Linked DNA regions of Homo sapiens. The protein of the gene in region 1 purifies or fractionates together with the protein of each later gene. This does not show direct contact. Each region holds a gene or a part of one and is shown on either strand. Other genes may lie near its edges. The genes, in order: ADAR and HDLBP.

Region 1 (2,926 bases):
AAGAGGTGAACATAAAGGATTTGGTGAAACATTTGTAAGGGTAGGAGTTGAAAACTGCAGTTCCCAGTGCCACGGAAGTGTGATTGGAGCCTGCAGATAATGCCCAGCCATCCTCCCATCCTGCACTTTAGCCAGCTGCAGGGCGGGCAAGGCAAGGAAAGCTGCTTCCCTGGAAGTGTATCACTTTCTCCGGCAGCTGGGAAGTCTAGAACCAGCCAGACTGGGTTAAGGGAGCTGCTCAAGCAATAGCAGAGGTTTCACCCGGCAGGATGACACAGACCACTTCCCAGGGAGCACGGGCATGCCTTGGAATATTGCCAAGCTTCCAGCTGCCTCTTCTCCTAAAGCATTCCTAGGAATATTTTCCCCGCCAATGCTGGGCGTACACCCTAGCCAACGGGACAAATCCTAGAGGGTATAAAATCATCTCTGCTCAGATAATCATGACTTAGCAAGAATAAGGGCAAAAAATCCTGTTGGCTTAACGTCACTGTTCCACCCGGTGTAATATCTCTCATGACAGTGACACCAAGGGAAGTTGACTAAGTCACATGTAAATTAGGAGTGTTTTAAAGAATGCCATAGATGTTGATTCTTAACTGCTACAGATAACCTGTAATTGAGCAGATTTAAAATTCAGGCATACTTTTCCATTTATCCAAGTGCTTTCATTTTTCCAGATGGCTTCAGAAGTAGGCTCGTGGGCAGGGCGCAGACCTGATCTTTATAGGGTTGACATAGAAAGCAGTAGTTGTGGGTGAAAGGGCAGGTTGTCTTCAAACTCTGTGAGGTAGAATCCTTTGTCTATACCTCCATGAACATTGACTCGTGTGTTCAGAGCCTTTGGCCTCTCTGTGGAGTCTGGCTCTCTGGCTCCTGTGCATTCTTTGAATAGTCACTCGTAAAAACTGTCAGTGCTTGAAACTGTTTCCTTTACTCATGTTGAAGGGACTTTGTTGGCTTTTAGAGTGTTGGTCATGACTCCAAGAGCAGAGCAGGGAAGAGCCCAAGCATAGACTTGGTGCCGTGGTGATGGCTGCAGTCCAGTTTTGTGATGCTGCTTTTACGTGTCCCTCGATAACAGTCAGCTAGACACACTCAGGAGGACTACTGAGGCTCTGCGACCTTCAGGAGCTGAGCCTGCCTCTCTCCTTTAGATGACAGACCTTCATCTGGGAACGTGCTGAGCCAGCACCCTCAGATGATTTCCCTCCAAACTGCTGACTAGGTCATCCTCTGTCTGGTAGAGACATTCACATCTTTGCTTTTATTCTATGCTCTCTGTACTTTTGACCAAAAATTGACCAAAGTAAGAAAATGCAAGTTCTAAAAATAGACTAAGGATGCCTTTGCAGAACACCAAAGCATCCCAAGGAACTGGTAGGGAAGTGGCGCCTGTCTCCTGGAGTGGAAGAGGCCTGCTCCCTGGCTCTGGGTCTGCTGGGGGCACAGTAAATCAGTCTTGGCACCCACATCCAGGGCAGAGAGGTCTGTGGTTCTCAGCATCAGAAGGCAGCGCAGCCCCTCTCCTCTTCAGGCTACAGGGTTGTCACCTGCTGAGTCCTCAGGTTGTTTGGCCTCTCTGGTCCATCTTGGGCATTAGGTTCTCCAGCAGAGCTCTGGCCAGCTGCCTCTTCTTTAACTGGGAACACAGGCTCTCACAAGATCAGAACCCCCACTCACCCCCAAGATCTTATCTAGCAAGCCTGTAGTATTCAGTTTCTGTTGTAGGAAGAGAGCGAGGCATCCCTGAATTCCACGCATCTGCTGGAAACGAGCCGTGTCAGATCGCACATCCCTGCGCCCCCATGCCCCTCTGAGTCACACAGGACAGAGGAGGCAGAGCTTCTGCCCACTGTTATCTTCACTTTCTTTGTCCAGTCTTTTGTTTTTAATAAGCAGTGACCCTCCCTACTCTTCTTTTTAATGATTTTTGTAGTTGATTTGTCTGAACTGTGGCTACTGTGCATTCCTTGAATAATCACTTGTAAAAATTGTCAGTGCTTGAAGCTGTTTCCTTTACTCACATTGAAGGGACTTCGTTGGTTTTTTGGAGTCTTGGTTGTGACTCCAAGAGCAGAGTGAGGAAGACCCCCAAGCATAGACTCGGGTACTGTGATGATGGCTGCAGTCCAGTTTTATGATTCTGCTTTTATGTGTCCCTTGATAACAGTGACTTAACAATATACATTCCTCATAAATAAAAAAAAAACAAGAATCTGAATTCTTAGAAAGTTTTAAGTCCTGGTTTCTTGGGGGAGGTGAAAATGGGAACAAAGGGACCTGTGGCCCTGGGGTTTCTGATAACAGCACCAGTGGCATCTGACATGAACCTGTGGGGGACAGGGCTGTCCCTCAGCCTTTGGAAAGGAGCCATTTCAAAGAACCTCCCTTTGTGGGTAAATTTGCGTCTGGGTGGGGTGGGGTTCATCAGGCACCTTTTGATTACGTACCCAGCAGGGCCCTTCCCCAGCAGAGCCCACGATTGATTGATTGATTGATTGATTGATTGATTGATTTAGAGATGGAGTATCACTCTGTCTCTCAAGCTGGAGTGCAGTGGCGCGATCTCGGCTCACTGCAAGCTCCGCCTCCCGGGTTCACGCCATTCTCCTGCCTCAGCCTCCCGAGTAGCTGGGACTACAGGCGCCTGTCACCACGCCTGGCTAATTTTTTTGTATTTTTAGTAGAGATGGGGTTTCACCGTGTTAGCCAGGATGGTCTCAATCTCCTGACCTCGTGAGGTCCACCTCAGCCTCCCAAAGTGCTGGGATTACAGGCGTGAGCCACTGCTCCCAGCCAGAGCCCACTATTAAATATCTTGTCCCACGGGACTTGAGACGCAAGATTTCAAGGCCCAGAGTAGGAAAACATCCCTTGAGAGAGGATCACCTATTAGGTACATAATTCCAGCTCTCCTTCAGGG
Region 2 (7,296 bases), on another chromosome or scaffold:
TGATGTTTAAGCTCATGCTGTTTTAATGGATGAGTTGGTGCTGCTGGGCAGGAATAAGCAAAGATGGTGTTTCTGCCAGAATGTCTTGGAAAAATATGCTCCTTCAGAACCTACAAATATTCTTGTTTTCTTTTATTCTCTTCTTGCTATAGGCCTCAGCAACTGTTGCCATTCCCAAAGAACACCATCGCTTTGTTATTGGCAAAAATGGAGAGAAACTGCAAGACTTGGAGCTAAAAACTGCAACCAAAATCCAGATCCCACGCCCAGATGACCCCAGCAATCAGATCAAGATCACTGGCACCAAAGAGGGCATCGAGAAAGCTCGCCATGAAGTCTTACTCATCTCTGCCGAGCAGGTGAGGCCTGTGTGAGTGCCTCGTGCCCCTGCCTACCTGCTTGTGCAGACCTCACTCCCTCATGGGTTGCCGTGTCCAGTGTGGACTTCAAGGCATAATGTGGTGGGGGTGGAGGGCTTGACTCCAACTCTAAAAAGCCCTGTCTGTCCCCAGTTTGTTTTCAAAGGCCTGTTCTCATCAGATCATCCCTTCCTTTCCAGGACAAACGTGCTGTGGAGAGGCTAGAAGTAGAAAAGGCATTCCACCCCTTCATCGCTGGGCCGTATAATAGACTGGTTGGCGAGATCATGCAGGAGACAGGCACGCGCATCAACATCCCCCCACCCAGCGTGAACCGGACAGAGATTGTCTTCACTGGAGAGAAGGAACAGTTGGCTCAGGCTGTGGCTCGCATCAAGAAGATTTATGAGGAGAAGGTACACGATTTAGAGGAGGCAAATCCCCATGGGCAGGAATAGAAATGAGGATTTGGGTCTGGAGATTCAGTTAAGGCCTGGTTCTGCCCCTTATCTTTTTGTCCTTGATGAAGATGCTTATTGTCTCTACACTTGAGTGACCCGGGTGAGATCGGTGCCCGCCCCCCCTTGCTGTTGAGCATCTGCCTGGCAGTTGTCCTTGCCGTCCTGGGCCTCTGACTGTGCTGACAGGCTGCCAGCTGGGCTGCCCCGGGTCAGATGCACATCCCGGACTTGTTCACGTCTTAGATTAAGCTGTTAGCTCAGCTTAGTGAACTTTGAGGTCTGAAACGTGTTCCTTAATTGAGGGAAAGGATTGGGTGTTTTGCAGTGTTCAAGGACGAAGTTATCAGCCGGCGGGTGACTAGACTGAGGGGAAAAATCCAGTCCTTGAACAGTGAAGTTTCTGGGGATTGGCTAGTCCTGATCACTTGTTGTTCACTTCTTGGGATCAGCATCTATAGTCTGGGCCGCTTTGGCTTGCTTTCTGCAGCAGTGGCCATGCCCACCTGCCCGCTTCCCACACCTTTCCCTTTGACTGCCCCTTATGGTGCTCTTATTTAGAAAAAGAAGACTACAACCATTGCAGTGGAAGTGAAGAAATCCCAACACAAGTATGTCATTGGGCCCAAGGGCAATTCATTGCAGGAGATCCTTGAGAGAACTGGAGTTTCCGTTGAGATCCCACCCTCAGACAGCATCTCTGAGACTGTAATACTTCGAGGCGAACCTGAAAAGTTAGGTCAGGCGTTGACTGAAGTCTATGCCAAGGTAACTGCCTCCGAGCATGAAGTGTGTCTCCTTTGAGTGGAGTCCGCGGGGCCTTCATGGATGAGCTCTCGATTTGTAAATCCTGGGGCCTGGACACAGTGCAGGTGCCCAGGTTTGGGGAGAGCGTGCCTCTGAGCCCCAGGTGAGCAGCCTGGCTTTCACTGTGACACGACCTTGAGCTCTGCAAACCCATGGCTGTTCTCCCATTTTCTTAGGCCAATAGCTTCACCGTCTCCTCTGTCGCCGCCCCTTCCTGGCTTCACCGTTTCATCATTGGCAAGAAAGGGCAGAACCTGGCCAAAATCACTCAGCAGATGCCAAAGGTAAGGACACGTTTTTCACCTGTTGTATTGAATTTGTCTTGTTTTCTGTCTTTCTGTTTCTGATATTGCTTTGTTGACCTTTGTACTGTGGATGCCCTTGAAAACTGGTGTATTTTTCTGAATTAACTGGCCTGTTTGACATGGTCAACTTCCGTGTTAGCTTAAAGAACAGCAGAATAAATGTCTGTAGATGTCTGTACCATCCTTCTGGCCTTTAACCAGAGAGGATTGTATGTTCTTAGGTTTCATAAGTATCTTAAGAAACATGTCATTTAGTAATTATGGTGAAATAACTTCATGATACTTTGGCGGGCCGGGTGCGGTGGCTCATGAGGTCAGGAGATCGAGACCATCCTGGCTAACATGGTGAAACCCCGACTCTACTAAAAATACAAAAAATTAGCCGGGCTTGGTGGCGGGCACCTGTGGTCCCAGCTGCTTGGGAGGCTGAGGCAGGAGAATGGCGTGAACCCGGGAGGTGGAGCTTGCAGTGAGCCGAGATGGCACCACTGCATTCCAGCCTTGGCGACAGAGCGAGACTCTGTCTCAAAAAAAAAAAAAAAATACTTTGAAGAGCAGAACTTGTATACAAATTGTATTAAGTGTGAATTTAAAGCGTTCTCAGTTTACCAAAGGAGATTGTAGCCCCCAGGAAACATGAACAAAAAAGAAATACCAGAGAATCCAACCATCATATTTAATTCCTGTTTTATTTAAACTTTGTTTCCAATTAATGTTACAGTCCTTTTTAAAAATTAAATTTTTTTTATTTTATTCCTTTTTTTTAGTGACAAAGCCTCACTCTGTCACCCAGGCTGGGGTGCAGTAGCGCAGTCATAGCTCACTGCAGCCTTGAACTCATGGGTCAAGTGATCCGCTCGTCTCAGCTTCCCAAGTAGCTGGCACTACAGGCGCCCCAGGCTAGTTTTCGTGGAGGCAGAGTCTTACTAGTTGCCCAGGTTGATCTCGAACTCGTGGGATCAAGTAGTCCTCCTACCTCAGCCTCCCAAAATATTGAGGTTATGGGTGTGAGTCACTGTGCCCAGCCCCTTTTACTTTGTATAGCTTCATATAAGGACCAGTCTGCCTTCCTTAACTCCTTACCTGGAGGATAATAAACCAGGAACTCTGGCAGCCTTGTCTATGTCAAGCAAGTTACTTTACCACCTTGGTACAGCTATACGAGTTTTAAAATTCCATCCGTGCTCTGTCTCATTCTTTATGCAACTCAAGAGGACCAGGCCTTGTAAAAGTTCAGATGGTGGAGGAGCATGTCGCATGTCGCATGCTTTATGTTAGTGGCTTCTGTGGGGCAAACGGTGTCCTTAGTGAGAGGCAGGATTATTCGGCCACAGTATTTAGTTTCCTGACTATGGCTCCCTAACCCTCCCTTTCAACTTTGTTTGATGGCTGTGGATATGTCCCTCCCTCCCTCACATCTATGTGAAGCAGTTTGGGATCAGAAGCCGCTCCGAAGAGAGCTCCCACTGGGAGCTCAGGGGCTGCAGCTGTGCCATTCTGTTTTAGCTATCTCTTTGGTTTTGGTGTGGTAGGTTCACATCGAGTTCACAGAGGGCGAAGACAAGATCACCCTGGAGGGCCCTACAGAGGATGTCAATGTGGCCCAGGAACAGATAGAAGGCATGGTCAAAGATTTGGTAAGGTACCCCTTGGAATGTTGTGTGTGCTGGTGACAAGGGAGGCTCTGAGTTGGGCATGGGCGGTCATCTCTCGATGACATCCCACATGTCCGGGCACAGACACCCAGGGCATCCTAGCTGGGTGAGTAATAGGTTCTGAAACAACCAGAAGCTGGTCGAAGTCCTGGAATAATCGTGGGTGGAGGAAACTTCATCTTGAAGAAGGCATCTTTCAGGGGAGATGCAGGGGCAGTCTCCAACAATTCCTGACAGCTGAGTGGTCAGAAAAGGCAACCGTGGAGACTGCTGGGTTTTGGTTCAGCTCATTGGCCAAGTAACCAGGCGCATCCATGGACCTCTGTGCTCCTCCTGCAGATTAACCGGATGGACTATGTGGAGATCAACATCGACCACAAGTTCCACAGGCACCTCATTGGGAAGAGCGGTGCCAACAGTGAGTGAGGCTGTCTGTTGCGGTGGGGCCAGTGTGCCCTGAGACCCTTGTGGGGGGTGTCAGCTGTGAGAACTGTGACGTCCGTGCAGACAGTCCAGGCCCATTGCTGCCTGTAATGGGAGTTACAGACTTTACATCCTCCTGCCTGCTGGAAGAGGCCACTTTTCCTTTTCCCTTTGGTGCAGTGGTTGGATTAGAGCTGCTTGGCCAGTGGGTGAATTGTCACTTTTGGAAATCCATCTAAGCCCTCCCCAAATAACCCACAGAGGCCATGTTGAAGGCATGCCCAAGGGCAGCATTCTCTATATTTCCGTCAGACCTGCTAGGTTAGCCAATCAGTGTTGGTAGTACTCATGCCTTCTGAACGTGGAAACTGCTGATCTGGAACTCACTGAAGAGTAAAAACATTCTAGATTTGTGCCCAAGTAAAACAACATGGGGAGGGATACTTTTTTGAGACAGGGTCTCACTCTGTCACCCAGGCTGGAGTGCAGTGGCGTGATCTCAGCTCACTACAACCTCTGCCTACCGGGCTCAAGCAATTCTCCAGCTTCAGCCTCCTGAGTAGCTGGGACTACAGGTGCATGCCACCACAGCCAATTAATTTTTGTATTTTTAGAAGAGACGGGGTTTCACCATGTTGGCCAGGCTTGTCTCAAATTCCTGGGCTCAGGTGATCTGCCCACCTTGGCCTCCCAAGGTGCTGGGATTAAAAGTGTGAGCCACCACACCCAGCAGGGGGATTCTGTTGAAGAGGCAGTGATATGTCAGCCAAGGTCGCTATATGCCTCACCTGTGCCAGGTTGTAGGTGTAGCACAGTTACAGGACACTGTTGGAAGTATGTCATGTGGGCCAAGGTCGCTGTGTGCCTCACCTGTGCCAGGTTGCAGGTGTAGCACAGTTACAGGATGCTGTTAGAAGTGTGTCGTGGGCATTCTGCTGCAGGTCCAAGGATGTTTTGTGTTGTTTGTTTGTTTTTTGGGACGGAGTCTCGCTCTGTCACCAGGCTGGAGTGCAGTGGCGTGATCTCAGTTCACTGCAACGTCCACCTCCCAGGTTCAAGCGATTCTCCTGCCTCAGCCTCCCAAGTAGCTGGGATTACAGGCGTGCACCACCACACCCAGCTAATTTTTTTGTATTTTTAGTAGAGATGGAATTTCACCATGTTGTCTAGGCTGGTGTCAAACTGCTGACCTTAGTTGATCTGCCCACCTCGGCCTCCCAAAGTGCTGGGATTACAGGCATGAGCCACTGTGCCCAACCAAGAATGTTTTTTTACACCTCTTTGTTTAACTGTATGGCTATACTCACACACTCGCGTGTTCTGAAAACAAGTGCACACGTCGCGTGTGTTACCTTTGGGTGGAAGGTGAGAAGGCAAGCACGTCCTCCATTCCTGGATAGTTCAGTGGATGAAGGAGCCTTTCCCAGGTAGTGGGACACCGACCTGCATAACATGACTGACGTCCGTGTATCCGTTTTTGTTATGAGTAAACATAGCCTTGGCAGCTGTGCTGTGGCCTGTGCAATGGTGAGCTCTCTGGTGTCAGTCTTATGTTTTGTGGGCATTTTACGTGACAGCGACGAGAGTCTGTAGGCACAAAGTGACCTTTTTGCGCACTACTTGAACCACACATACACCATAAACTTGCTTTTACGGTTTTGTTTTGGTTTTGGTTAACTGTAGCGTTTGTTTAGGCCTGACACGGTGGCTCTTGCCTGTAATCCCAGCATTTTGGGAGACCAAGGCAGGAGGATCACTTGAGCCCAGGAGTTCGAGATGAGCCTGGGCAACATAGTGAGACCCCTGTCTCTACAAAAAAGAAAAATTTAGCCAGGCCTGTGGTCCCCGCTGCTCTGGAGGCTGAGGCAGGAATATCACTTGAGCCCAGGAAGTCAAGGCTGCAGTGAGCTGTGATTGTATCGTGCCACTGCATTTTAGCCTGGGTGACAGAGCAAGACCCTGTCTCAAAACACATATATATGGAAGTACAGTAGTGTAAATCTAACATTAATTTCTGGTTTCTGCCCCCGAGAAATTGCAGAATGTAGCTTAGTCAGTCATGTCTGTTCTGTTTTCTTCTCATGCAGTTCCTAACTCTTGTCTTCTTTCGTAATCTAAAAAAACCTGCTGCCCAGCTCCCATGTCCTCTGCTTCTCTTGTCTTGTGTTGCTTCACCTGGCACAGCTGCATGTCCATGTTCCCCCCTCAGTGCATCGCCTCGTTGCTGCCTCTGCGTGTGCATGTGTTTGGGATGGACGCACAAAAAGCCCTCCTCGTGGTCCTTCCAGCAAGCTGGGCTTCCCTTTACTGCACAGTGGGCAAGATTCCTGCCTTGTTTCCTGATGATACGGCTTCTCCAGAGTTTGGGGGGCCTGGAACTCTTAACTTGGGGGTACTGGGTTCTATCCAGAGAGGTTGACAGCAGGAGGGTTTGCAACAGCACTTGTCTTGCAGACACAGTGAAGTGCTCAGTGTGAATCTGAGCCAACAGTAGATGGGGTCTCTGGGCAGCAGCATGGGCCCCACAAGGCTCTTAGGCGTCAGTGAGTGCTTTTGTGTGGAGTTAATGTGTGTGGTTTTTTTAACTTGAGAATAGTAGTTCCCAAACTTACTGCACATTAGAAACACCTGGAATCCTTCAACTATTCTGAAGCCCTGGCCAATACCCCAGACGAGCTAAATCCCAGACTGAGTGGCCCCAACCGTCAGTTATTTGAAGGTCTCGGGGCATTTCCAGCTTCTGGTCCAGGCTGAGAGCCTGTCCTCCAGAACCCTTGTGATCCAGGTGAAGATCATAACTGGCCCCCATTCTAGACAATGGAGATTTTTGTTTGGGAAGCTAAGCATCGTTTTTGGTGATGGGAATCACAGATAAGGTTATTTAGCGCTTTAGCGCTGTCCTGCCCAGTTATGTCATTGGCAGAATGTTGTTGGTCTGTGTCCTAAATGTGTTTCCTTTTGTGTTCCTAAGTAAACAGAATCAAAGACCAGTACAAGGTGTCCGTGCGCATCCCTCCTGACAGTGAGAAGAGCAATTTGATCCGCATCGAGGGGGACCCACAGGGCGTGCAGCAGGCCAAGCGAGAGCTGCTGGAGCTTGCATCTCGCATGGTAAGTGCCATGGCTGGGCCCTCTAGAAAGGCACTGGCCTTGCGTCTCTTGGCCCCCTCTAAGGAGTAGCGTGTTGTGGTGTGCGGCCTTAGAGAATGGAAGTCGACAAATCCCACGTTGCACTGGAACCGGATTGGACTCCCTGGGGCCACATTTCCTTTATCCTCCCCAGGTCACC

The links.
Region 2: the proteins of ADAR (region 1) and HDLBP purify together in Homo sapiens (affinity purification with western blotting; 2 studies listed by BioGRID, with this or other methods). This does not show direct contact.

Annotation. Positions count from the first base shown.
Region 1 is NC_000001.11:154,581,365-154,584,290, reverse strand, and holds the end of ADAR (double-stranded RNA-specific adenosine deaminase), read left to right. Parts: 3' UTR 1-2,234; downstream 2,235-2,926. UniProt on the Homo sapiens protein: Catalyzes the hydrolytic deamination of adenosine to inosine in double-stranded RNA (dsRNA) referred to as A-to-I RNA editing.
Region 2 is NC_000002.12:241,249,663-241,256,958, reverse strand, and holds part of HDLBP (vigilin), read left to right. Parts: intron 1-152; coding exon 153-359; intron 360-559; coding exon 560-775; intron 776-1,378; coding exon 1,379-1,585; intron 1,586-1,800; coding exon 1,801-1,908; intron 1,909-3,461; coding exon 3,462-3,566; intron 3,567-3,923; coding exon 3,924-4,002; intron 4,003-6,978; coding exon 6,979-7,118; intron 7,119-7,296. UniProt on the Homo sapiens protein: Appears to play a role in cell sterol metabolism. It may function to protect cells from over-accumulation of cholesterol.